Homo sapiens: one gene and its partners. The protein of the gene in region 1 purifies or fractionates together with the protein of each later gene. This does not show direct contact. Each region holds a gene or a part of one and is shown in the gene's direction. Other genes may lie near its edges. The genes, in order: GAGE1, MCM8 and IREB2.

Evidence for each region.
Region 2: the proteins of GAGE1 (region 1) and MCM8 purify together in Homo sapiens (affinity purification with mass spectrometry; one large-scale study listed by BioGRID and IntAct). This does not show direct contact.
Region 3: the proteins of GAGE1 (region 1) and IREB2 purify together in Homo sapiens (affinity purification with mass spectrometry; one large-scale study listed by BioGRID and IntAct). This does not show direct contact.

What each region holds. Positions count from the first base shown.
Region 1 is NC_000023.11:49,597,461-49,601,859, forward strand, and holds the start of GAGE1 (G antigen 1), read left to right. Parts: upstream 1-1,559; 5' UTR 1,560-1,667; intron 1,668-2,706; 5' UTR 2,707-2,714; coding exon 2,715-2,798; intron 2,799-3,263; coding exon 3,264-3,384; intron 3,385-4,399. UniProt on the Homo sapiens protein: Antigen, recognized on melanoma by autologous cytolytic T-lymphocytes.
Region 2 is NC_000020.11:5,957,131-5,960,779, forward strand, and holds part of MCM8 (DNA helicase MCM8), read left to right. Parts: coding exon 1-99; intron 100-1,397; coding exon 1,398-1,596; intron 1,597-3,649. UniProt on the Homo sapiens protein: Component of the MCM8-MCM9 complex, a complex involved in the repair of double-stranded DNA breaks (DBSs) and DNA interstrand cross-links (ICLs) by homologous recombination (HR).
Region 3 is NC_000015.10:78,493,693-78,497,341, forward strand, and holds part of IREB2 (iron-responsive element-binding protein 2), read left to right. Parts: intron 1-216; coding exon 217-364; intron 365-449; coding exon 450-572; intron 573-3,433; coding exon 3,434-3,619; intron 3,620-3,649. UniProt on the Homo sapiens protein: RNA-binding protein that binds to iron-responsive elements (IRES), which are stem-loop structures found in the 5'-UTR of ferritin, and delta aminolevulinic acid synthase mRNAs, and in the 3'-UTR of transferrin receptor mRNA.

The sequences.
Region 1 (4,399 bases):
GTTGTTGAACTTTTGAGTGCAAGTGATGCACCCACCTCACCTCCCACAGTGCTGGGATTACTGGCGTGGGCCACCGTGGCGGGCCCGTCGTTGCCATTGTAAAGAGTTTTATTTCCTTTTCTGATTTTATGGCATTGCGCAGACCCACCCGTTACAATGGTGACAGTGGACATCCTTGTCTTATCCCTGATGAGAAACCGAAAAATTTCAACATTTCACCATCCTATTCACTCTCCTTTTTTTGTAGACGGACTTTATCAGAGTGAGTCATTGCATTCTGTTCCAAATTTGCTGAGAGTATTCATTTGAATATATGTTGATTTTCATCAAACAGTGCATCTATTTCGATTACCACAGCGTTTTTTCCCATTCATGTGTTAATATAGTGAATTCGATTGATAAATTTGTACGTTTTTAGGTTCGATTATTAAAACTTGAGACAGCGTCTCACTCTGTCACCGAGGCTGGAGTGCGGTGGTGTTATCAGAGCTCGCTGCAGCCTTGACCTCCTGGGCTCAAGCGCGCCTCCCACCTCAGCCTCCTGAGGAGCTGTGAGTATAGGTACATGCCACCATGCCCAGCTAATTTTTCGATGGTTTTTTGTTTGTTTTTTGTAGTGATGAGATTTTCTGATGTTGCTTAGGCTGGTCTCGAAGTCCTGAGCTCAGGTGATCTGGCCAGCTCAGCCTCCCAAAATACTAGGATTACAGGCGTGAGCCTTGGCCTGGTCTGGTTTTTCTTATATAGGGGTCTTATCTATATAAAGACTAAAGTTAATCTGTGCCTTTGTGCGGGTGGGCTAAGAGCATGATGACTTTTATCATTCTATTGATTTAAAGAAAACTGTCCTTGACTTACCAGTGTGTAAGTCCATGAAAGCATAATTCTGTTGAAAGCATATATTGTTAATGGGTGTTGGGAACCGTGCACTTTCCGCTGCTGTGGGAGCATGTCCTTGGAGGTACCTTTCATCTGTTTTCTCAACTCCAAACATCTTAGGACCATGGGTTGTGACTGGTAGGACTATGTATCTTGCTGCTTTCAAGACGGAGTATATTTTCACGTGGTGTCACTCTGGCTGTCCTGTTTCCCTAATACTGTCACTTCACCCTCTGCGATTCTGATGCTACAAATGATAGATATCGTTTTAGCATTTTCTTACGGGTCCTAGCGATTCTATTCATTTTTCTTTCAGTCTCTTTCTCTGACTTGTTCACATTGAACAATTTCCTTTTGGGATAGGTTGCTATTTCTGTTTTCGCAGGTGGTTTACCTGTCTTCCCAGCCAGTCACAGTGGTCCTTGTCCCCATGGTGGGTCCGGGGCAAGAGAGGGCCCTGGGTTGGGGGTGGGGTTCAGTTGAAGATGGGGTGAGTTTTGAGGGGAGCACTACTTGAGTCCCAGAGGCATAGGAAACAGCAGAGGGAGGTGGGATTCCCTTATCCTCAATGAGGATGGGCATGGAGGGTTTGGGGCGTGGCGCTGGGAACGGCAGCCCTCCCCAGCCCACAGCCGCGCATGCTCCCTGGGCTCCCGCCTCAGTGCGCATGTTCACTGGGCGTCTTCTGCCCGGCCCCTTCGCCCACGTGAAGAACGCCAGGGAGCTGTGAGGCAGTGCTGTGTGGTTCCTGCCGTCCGGACTCTTTTTCCTCTACTGAGATTCATCTGGTAGGTGTGCAGGCCAGTCATCCCGGGGGCTGAAGTGTGAGTGAGGGTGGAGAGGGCCTCGGGTGGGTCAGGCGGGTCCCGCTTCCTGGTCTGTGGCCTCCGAGGGAGAAGGGCCACGAGGTCGTCCTCCTTCCCTTCACAGGCTGCGAGGCCACCGGCGGCTTCGTGGTCGTGAAGGGGCCTGGACGGGGAGGAAGGTGGGCCGTGGAGGGGAGGCGGTCAGGGGCTCAGGTGAAGACGGGGTGAGTGCTGTTGGGGGGATGGAAGTCCCGAGGTGCCGGGATCCCCGACGACACAGGGCAGATTCCCTGAATGGGGCCCCCGGCGGGGGCGAGGCGGGCGGTGAAGAAGGGGCCTGGCACCTGGGAAGGCTGCGGCCTGGCGAGCGCCCCCTCAGCGGTGTGGAGTGCGGAGCGCCCGAGTGAGAAGCACTGCAAGGTCTCACCTCCGCCATGGAAGGTCCGAAAACAGTGGGAAGGAGTGGGCGAGGCAGTGCGGTCCAACCAAACTTGTTGTGAGGGGGGGTGAATGGCTCTAGGAAGTGGGAGTGTGCCCAAAGCAGCAATCACGAGAATTGTGATTCACTAGGGTTTTCGTGGGGAGTGCACTTGTGAAACTAAACCTCATCAGAAATGACCTCTGTCTGCGGGGCGCAGTGGCGCTCGCCTACGTATTCCCAGTTACTGGGGACACTGAGGTGGGAGGATCCCTTGAGCGGGAGGTCGAGGCTGCAGTGAGCTGTGATCACGCCGCTGCACTCCAGCCTGAGCAACACAGCGAGACCGCGTGTCCAAAAGAAATTTAGAAAAAAATGTCCTCTGCCTTTTGCCACACGCCTTAAGATGATTGCTCTGCCAGCCTGGCCAGCAGAAGTGGCTTTGTAGGCACTCAGACAGCGTACACACGTATGCTTAACTCTGGGACTTATTTTGAGAGTATTTTCAAAAGTAAAACGGCAAGTTAACATTTATCCATGGAAGTGATCGAATATAGCAGCCCTCTGGAGCGCACGTTCCCAATCACGGTTGTCTGTTTTCAGTGTGAAATATGAGTTGGCGAGGAAGATCGACCTATTATTGGCCTAGACCAAGGCGCTATGTACAGCCTCCTGAAATGATTGGGCCTATGCGGGTGAGTGCTTAAACGTTAATTCGATGTTTTCTATTAGTAGAAATTAATTTTTGTGATAGCGTCGTTGCATTAGTGTGGAAATGCTGATAAAGGTCTTTCCTGCTCATAAAAAATGAGGATGGCATCTCATGAAGGAAACATTGATTCTGGAGGATTTTTTTTTTCCTCTCGTGTTCTTCAGCTTTTGCCCATGACTTCTTTCTCCGGCTTTGTTTGTTAATGACAGATTGTACACATGTATTCCAACACAGAGTATAATAGCCCCCAAAGTCCTCGTGCGTCACTTTTCTCACAGTAACCTCCCTGTGGGTGGAGTAACCTTATTGGGCATAGAGCATAGAGTTGGAGAAATGTCTTTAGGCTTAGTTAGGACCAGAAATAGCTATGTATTCTGTGTATATATGTAAAATTTTGTATCAATAACGAAACTTATTTTTTATTTGCACACCCACACGTATTCCCCAGCCCGAGCAGTTCAGTGATGAAGTGGAACCAGCAACACCTGAAGAAGGGGAACCAGCAACTCAACGTCAGGATCCTGCAGCTGCTCAGGAGGGAGAGGATGAGGGAGCATCTGCAGGTCAAGGTGAGGGAAAGGGAAGAAGAACGTCTGCTGGTGTGTGCGTGTGTGTGTGTTCGTGTGTGTGTGTGTGCACGTGTGTGTGTGTGTGTTAGGCATTGTCACATAGGAGGAAGAGGAGGAAAGAAAACAATGGAAAGAATGCCTGAAATTGACTGGAAAAGCGAGGAGGCTATGTAGTTCGCAGCTTAGCTTAGGCAAATCCCTCACTATGGTAAAAGATCTCGACTTTATGAATGAGAGAATGGAGGTGCCAGGATTGTGTGTTATCCAAGAACCCTTGACTGGTGAATACAACATTTGTACTGTGTTCCAAGGTTTGTGTCTTCCTATCATGTATGTTGCTGTAAAGAAGGAAGTGATTTTGCTGAAAATGCTTAAAACTCAAAAGGCTTTACTGTAAGGTAGCTTAGTACTGACCCAAGAATAGACCCAGTTCAGAGGAGCAGGAGCAGCTCCAAAAACCGAGTCGCTGAATGTTGGCCCCCGTTTCCTTTGATTGATATTTTTATATGGTACGTTTGATAAAAGCTGGATAAATGAGGATACTGCCATACAGGTAGCTGGTTTAGTGATTTTTCTCAGCGGCCTTTAGGAGGTGATTAAATCCTTTTATGGTTAGAAAAGCAAAAACGGAATTATCCTGAGATTAACGTGAGATGGAAATAATTTCTCCGAGATAAAATGTTTTGAAAGGAAGCATTTATGTAACGGAGGTCATGGATTATTCCAGGGATGCACTGTTAAAAGTTCCTAGAATCTGACTGACAACAATGCCCATTAATTGCTGTCCGCCCACTCCCTTATTCTCAGTGCGGGGGACAGTATATTTTCTGTGATTCACAAACAATGTTATATTTGGTGCTTTGTTCTTCACGGGGTTCATTTATGGAATATTACCTTTAGGACCTTCGGACCTAAATATAACTTTATTTGAACAAAGTGAAGTTTCTCTTTACCCCAATAGGTAATGGGTGTCGTGACTGTAAGATTTTCCATAGTCCTCAAATCCATCCAGCTA
Region 2 (3,649 bases), on another chromosome or scaffold:
AACTAAGGACCTTGAAAGGCATGCAGCTGAGTTACAAGCCCAGGAAGGATTGTCTAATGATGGAGAAACAATGGTAAATGTGCCACATATTCATGCAAGGTGAGGAATTTGATGTATTAAAGTATTACTTAGAATGGGACATTGAAGGCCATTTAAGAATGAAAACGCTCATTTTATAAAAATGAGGAAATCAGTAAAAAGGACATGAGTTCCTTGCCATCTCATTGATCATCACACTGAAATAAACTCATTGAAAATTATTCAAAGACATCATGACAGATACTTCCTAAATAAGGAAGAAAATGTTGATTTCCTAACCTGCAGATTTTTGTAAACATTGGTTTTGGATGTGAACTTATCAAGACCCTGCTGTGTAAGTTTAATAATCCATGTATGGGTTGAGTATCCCTAATCTGAAAATCTGAAATCTGAAATGCTCCAAAATTCAAAACTTTGAGCCCTGACACGACACTGAAAGGAAATGTTCATTGGAGCACTTCAGATTTTTGAATTAGAGATACTCAACTAGTAATATTGCAAATATTTGGAAGTCCAAAAATTCCAAAATACTTCTGGTCCCAGGCATTTTGGATAAGGGATATACTCAGTCTGTAATACACTAAGTGTTCTTTGTTAAATTATTAGGTTTTTGTTAGATACAAGGGAATAATGAAATTATTTTGTTTTTCTTGAATTCATCTTTAAGATTTTAAATTCATTAGAAGAATTCATTATAAGGTAATCATCAGCATTTTGTTTTTCTTTTCCAGAATTTATAGAAGAAAATTTCCTAGCAGTTCTTTAAAAAGAACTTAGAAACCCAAAGGTTTTTGAATCTGTAGATTTTCCTTTTGGCATTATTTTTTTCCTTAAATTTCTTTTTTCTTTTTTCCTTGAGAACAGCCTGTGAGACAAGAAGAAAAAGGAAGATTTAGTGTTGTTTCTTGTTAAGAATGGTTTGGCTGGGCACGGTGGCTCATGCCTGTAATCCCAGCACTGGGAGTCCGAGGCAGGCGGATCACGAGGTCAAGCGATCGAGACCATCCTGGCCAACATGGTGAAACCCTGTCTCTACTAAAAATACAAAAATTAGCTGGGTGTGGTGGCACACACCTGTAGTCCCAGCTACTCGGGAGACTGAGGCAGGAGAATCACTTGAACCCGGGAGGCAGTGGTTGCAGTGAGCCAAGATGGCACCCCTGCACTCCAGCCTGGCAACAGAGCGAGACTCCATCTCAAGAAAACAAAACACAACAAGAATGGTTTAATTCTTGTGATATTTCTGATATATCGAAGGGATGATTTGATTTGAGAATTCCATAGTTGCTCCTAAAAGGAACTTGTGAAAATATAAAAAACATCAATTTTCTGTTCATTACTTCCTGTTTTGTCTTTAGGGTGTACAACTATGAGCCTTTGACACAGCTCAAGAATGTCAGAGCAAATTACTATGGAAAATACATTGCTCTAAGAGGGACAGTGGTTCGTGTCAGTAATATAAAGCCTCTTTGCACCAAGATGGCTTTTCTTTGTGCTGCATGTGGAGAAATTCAGAGCTTTCCTCTTCCAGATGGAAAATACAGTCTTCCCACAAAGGTAATACGTTCTTTAACTGCTTCTTTATTTATCTTGGTAAAGAAGGCAAATCAGAATACAGAAAACATTTCCCAGTGTTTCTGAACACAGAGCTTATTTTTATTTTTTATTTTCAATTTTCTGCTTTTATATTATGAAATACTTCAGGGTAAGAAAAATACAGAAATAAATAAAACATTCCACTACTCATCACCCCGAATTTACATTTTTCAGCTCCGGACACATTTTTTAATGATATAAAGCATTACTGGCACAATTAGTGTCTGTTTTTTACCTATACCATTCCCAGGGATGATCATTATCCTGAAGTTATTATAATATGCATCCCTTCCATTCATATTTCTGTTGACTTCTAGGTATACACACCAAGTTTTTTTTCCCCTTTATTTCTTCTACTATTTAGAAGTGATGGGTTTTTTAAATCTTTATTAGCCTTTATTAAACTGGATTTTAAAACTATAGAAAAGTGCAGAGAATAATGTAATTAACATTTATCTACTCTATGATTTGGCAAATATTAATATTATTTTAGCTTAATTTGTAACAAAAATATGGTTATATAAAGTTGAAGTCTTTCTGTTCTCAGTTTTATTCCCTTTATTTGCTCCCTAGATGCAACCACTATGCTGAAATTGGCATGTATTCTTCAAGTTTACATTTTTATTCTTGACTACATGTGTAGAGTTAGTTTTTTGTATTGTGTTTACGTAAATGGTATCCTGAATGTAACACGCAGCTGTTTTTTTATTTGGTTATTTTGTAGTTCTACCTATTTTAATACATATCAAATTCTTTCATTTTTACTATTGTGGAGTGTTGCTTTAAATAAATAGCCACAATTTATCCATTTTCCTGGAGGTAGACAATTGTGCTCTTTCCAGTTTTTTATAAGAACAAATGATACTGCAGAGAACATTCTTGTACATGTCTCCTTAGCAGAGGAATACTAAGTTGTAGGCTGTACTTTTTTTTTTTTTTTTTTTTTTTTTTGAGACGGAGTCTCGCTCTGTTGCCCGGGCTGGAGTGCAGTGGCGCGATCTTGGCTCACCGCAACCTCCGCCTCCTGGGTTCAAGCAGTTCTCCTGCCTCAGCCTCTCGAGTAGCTGGGACTACAGGCACGCGCCACCATGCCTGGCTAATTTTTGTATTTTTGGTAGAGACAAGGTTTCACTATGTTGGCCAGGCTGTTCTCAAACTCCTGACCTGGTGATCCGCCTGCCTCAGCCTCCCAGAGTGCTGGGATTGGCCGGCTGTACTTATTTTTAACTGTATTAGATGTTACCAAATTACTTTCCAGAGTATTGTTCCCAACTTAAATCTTTGCTGGTAGTGTTAAGTAGTTACCATTTCTCTGTCTTTTCATTAACACTTGGTATTGTTAGACTTGTACATTTTTGACAGTTTGTTAGGTATAAATAATACTGCATTTATAATGTGAATTTTTCTGATTTCTGTTGTGGTTGAGCATCTTTTCATATCTTTACTGGCCATTCAGTTTCTTTATCGAATTTTCTATTTATATCTAATGTTCATTTTCCTGTTTATTGGTTTATTCTTTAATTTTGTTTTTTAGAGATGGGGTCTCATTCTGTTGCCCAGGCTGGAGTGTAGTGACATGATCATAGCTCATTACAACCTTGAACTCCTGGGCTCAGGTGATCTTCCCATCTCAGCTTCCCACGTAGTTGGGACTACAGGTGCCAGCCACTGTGCCTGGTTCTATTAGTTTATTGATAGGAGTTCTTTATACATTCTAGATACTAATTATTGTTGATTATATACATTAGATATTTTCTCCCAGTCTTTGGTTTGTCTTTTAACTTTGTGGGTTTTTTTGTTGTACAGTTTTACATTTTGACATGATCAAATTGTTGTCTTTTCCTCCCTAATTTGTATATTTTATGCCCTGCTTAAGAAGCCGTTCTTCGGCTGGGCTTGGTGGCTCATGCCTGTAATCTCAGCACTTTGGGAGGCCGAGGCGGGCAGATCACCTGAGGTCAGGAGTTGAAGACCAGCCTGACCAACAGGGAGAGACCCCATCTCTACTAAAAAT
Region 3 (3,649 bases), on another chromosome or scaffold:
TTTGCTTCAAAATAATCTAATGGGGTTGACTGTAGAAGAAACGGAGCATCTGTTAAGTTATAGCTTGGTGATAGGCGCATGGACATTCATGGTTTTGTTTTCTTTTGTGTTTGAAATTTTCTGTGATAAAAAAATTTTTCAATAGGTCTTACAGCTCAATAGTATGTGATTATTTTCCACATGTAATGAAAACTGACTTTCATTACTTTCTTGTAGCCTTACCCCTCGTGAATTCAACTCTTACGGAGCTCGAAGAGGTAATGATGCTGTAATGACAAGAGGCACTTTTGCAAATATCAAGCTTTTTAATAAGTTTATTGGAAAACCAGCTCCTAAAACAATTCATTTTCCATCAGGACAGACGGTGAGAATGCAAACAAAGTATTTAGACAATTTATAACTGGATCAAAATTTGTATTAAAAAATTTTGTGTTTGTTTTAATCTACAGCTAGATGTATTTGAGGCTGCAGAGCTGTACCAGAAAGAAGGTATCCCACTGATTATTTTAGCAGGAAAGAAATATGGTTCAGGAAACTCCAGAGACTGGGCTGCCAAAGGACCGTATTTACTGGTATTGAATCTTAAAATTTATCATCTTAAGCTTCAAAGAGTTTTAACTGTTCCCTTTTGTCAGTAACATCCTGTCAAAGTTTATCTGGATTTTTTATAGTTATTTGAACCTTATAGGTATAGAGGGTTTTGTTTGTTTGTTTATTTCAGTGATCTTTGGTAATATTTTGTACTCATCTAGTTAGTATCATTTTAATACTCTGAGTTTGGTAAAACCTACATCAGTCTTATGTGAAGAAGTCAGTATAATAGAGGGAAAGGAAATTCTGTTTTAAACTATTGTTTTATAATTATTTATACCTATTGATCATTTTTTTTGGTTTTTTAGTTTTGAGACCATGTCCTTGTCACCCAGACTGGAGTGCAGTGGCGCAATCACTGCTTGCTGCAGCCATGACCTCCCAGGTGCAATCAGTTCTCCTGCCTCAGCCTCCCAAGTAGCTGGGACTACGCCATGAGTTACCACACCTGGCCAATTTTTGTATTGTTTGTAGAGATCGGATCTCTCTATTTTGCTCAGGCTGATCTTGAACTCCTGGGCTCAAGTGATCCTCCCGCTGTGGCCTCCCAGGGTGCTGGGATTACAGGCTTGAGCCATGTGCCCGGCCCCCACTGTTAATTTTACTTGCCTCCTTTTGATTTAATTTTCTCCGATTTGCCCCATCAGTGGGTAAAAGACTCAGAAGTAGTAGGCCAAGTTGCACCTTTTTTCCCCCTAAATAGGAGATTGTGGTGCCTGGCTGTCTGCCAGGAGGACATTTCTCCTGAGACTGTTTCCTTGTTGCAGAGCAAATAGGCCATCTGCTGGGGGGGAATAGTCATGTGACATGTGCTTTTTGCCATTTCATACTCACAGATGCTTCTCTTTACAATTGTAGCTGTAAAAAGGCTGGCTGAAACACAGATACCATGCAGGCCTCATTCTTATTTTAATCTTTAATATCTCCTTTAAAATGTAAATACTCTGAGGGGCTGTGGGAATAAAACAAAATCTCATCCTTCTAAGATACTAATTATAAGTATTATTATGAGTATTAATGATAGGTATAGGTTATTTTTATCCTGGAAATTGTTTTAGTGTTTGTTTTTGATGTTGGAAGCTTTCCTTATATGGCAGGTGATGCTTGGCCCTCCATTTGTTAGACATTAAAAAACTGATTACAAGCCATGGATGGGGGCTGGGTTGTGTCAGTTACTGGGCCTTACTATAGGTGACTGGGTGATAAGCTACCTTTTTCATTAAGCGATTCTATATGTCATTATCTGTATTTTCTCTGAGGCCATTCAGTTTCTTGAAGGAAAGAGACTCGTTCAGTATGTAGACATCTACTTAGTCCCCTGTTTTCAATCTGGTATTCTCAAGCCCCTGTGCCCAGTGTTTGTCAGTTTAGAGAATGTATTCTCTTCCTTATTTCTGCTATAACAAAAAATGAGTAAAAATTTGTAAAAAATGAGTAAAAAAGAACAAAAATTGGTCCTCAGGTGGTAAAAAAAATTCTACTTTTTGCACATAAAGTACAGATAAGAGTACATTAAAAGATACACAGCATCTTTGTGGTACTAAAATTTTGGAGAGAAGGGAGGTGAACAGGAAGACACAATTTGGGGGAAAAAAGTCTTAAAAGACTCCTTAGGTAGACAGTGGAGAAAAAAGTTGAAAAACACAAGTCTAGAGCCTTTGGCTCATTTTTTCCAGAGAATAAACCTCTACTCTTGTGGAGTGGGGATTGAGCTGGATCTTACTGCTTTGTATGGCCTTGTAACCTGTGTCCACGAGTATTCTGAGAACCTCATGCCTCTGAATCTCAATCCTTTTCCTGGGTCTTGTGTTGCACATTAACTCAGACCTTACTGGTATCACTCTCTAATTTCATTTTATCATTCTGCGGTTTCAGCATTGTCTTCTAAATCACTTACCTATCTCTGTTTTCTAAATATTCATAGAATTCTCTCATCCTATTCCCTTTGTTGCTGTGGGCTTATACCCTCTTCATTATTGTTGTTACTTATTTGTATTTTTTGGAGACAGGGTCTCACTCTGTCGTCCAGGCTGGAATGCAGTGGCATGATCTCAGCTCCCTGCAACCTCCACTTACAACCTCAAGTGACTCTCCTGCCTCAGCCTCCATAGTAGCTGAGATTACAGGTGTGCACCACCATGTCCAGCTAATTTTTCTGTTTTTAGATAGAGATGGAGTTTCACCATGTTGGCCAGGCTGGTCTCAAACTCCTGGCTTCAAGTGATCTGCCCACCTCGGCCTCCCATAGTGCTGGCATTACAGGTGTGAGCCACTGCATCCAGCCTATTCTTGTTACTTTTTATTGTATTTTTTATTTTTATGTTTTGTAGAGACAGGGTCTCACTATATTGCCCAGGCTGGTCTCAAACTCCCGGCCTCAAATAATCCTTCTGCCTCAGCCTCCAAAGTACTGGGATTATAAGCATATAAGCCACTGCGCCTGGCCCTATATACCTTCTTTATTCCTTTATTTTAGTGGCATTTCAAGAGTGTTGAAAACATATGTTAGATCTGGCATGTTTAAATAGAAATCCTTCTGAGCCCTACTTTGGGGTCAAGGGAGCCGGCCCATTTATAGAGCTCTTATGATGTGGTAGGCAGCGGCAGTACTTAACCCTAGAGCAGCAGAAAGGGATCCGAATAATTTAGAGAGCTCCATAAAAATTCAGAAAAATAATCTGTAAGAAGGTTCTGTAAATACTTTGATAAAATATTGATTCAGTATGAGATATTAGACTAAAAGTATTTAGAGAAAGGCCAAAGTAGATTTTTGCCCCCTTTAAATGCTCAATAAATAACTTTCAGAAGTGATTAGAGGGAATAAAATGCACATTTATTACAGGGTGTGAAAGCTGTTTTGGCCGAAAGTTATGAAAAAATACACAAAGATCATTTGATTGGAATTGGCATAGCTCCACTTCAGTTCCTTCCAGGAGAAAATGCAGATTCCTTGGGCCTCTCCGGTAGAGAAACATTTTCTTTAACATTTCCTGAAGAACTGTCTCCTGGAATTACATTGAATATACAGGTATCTCTAAATTTTTCAAATATATGATTA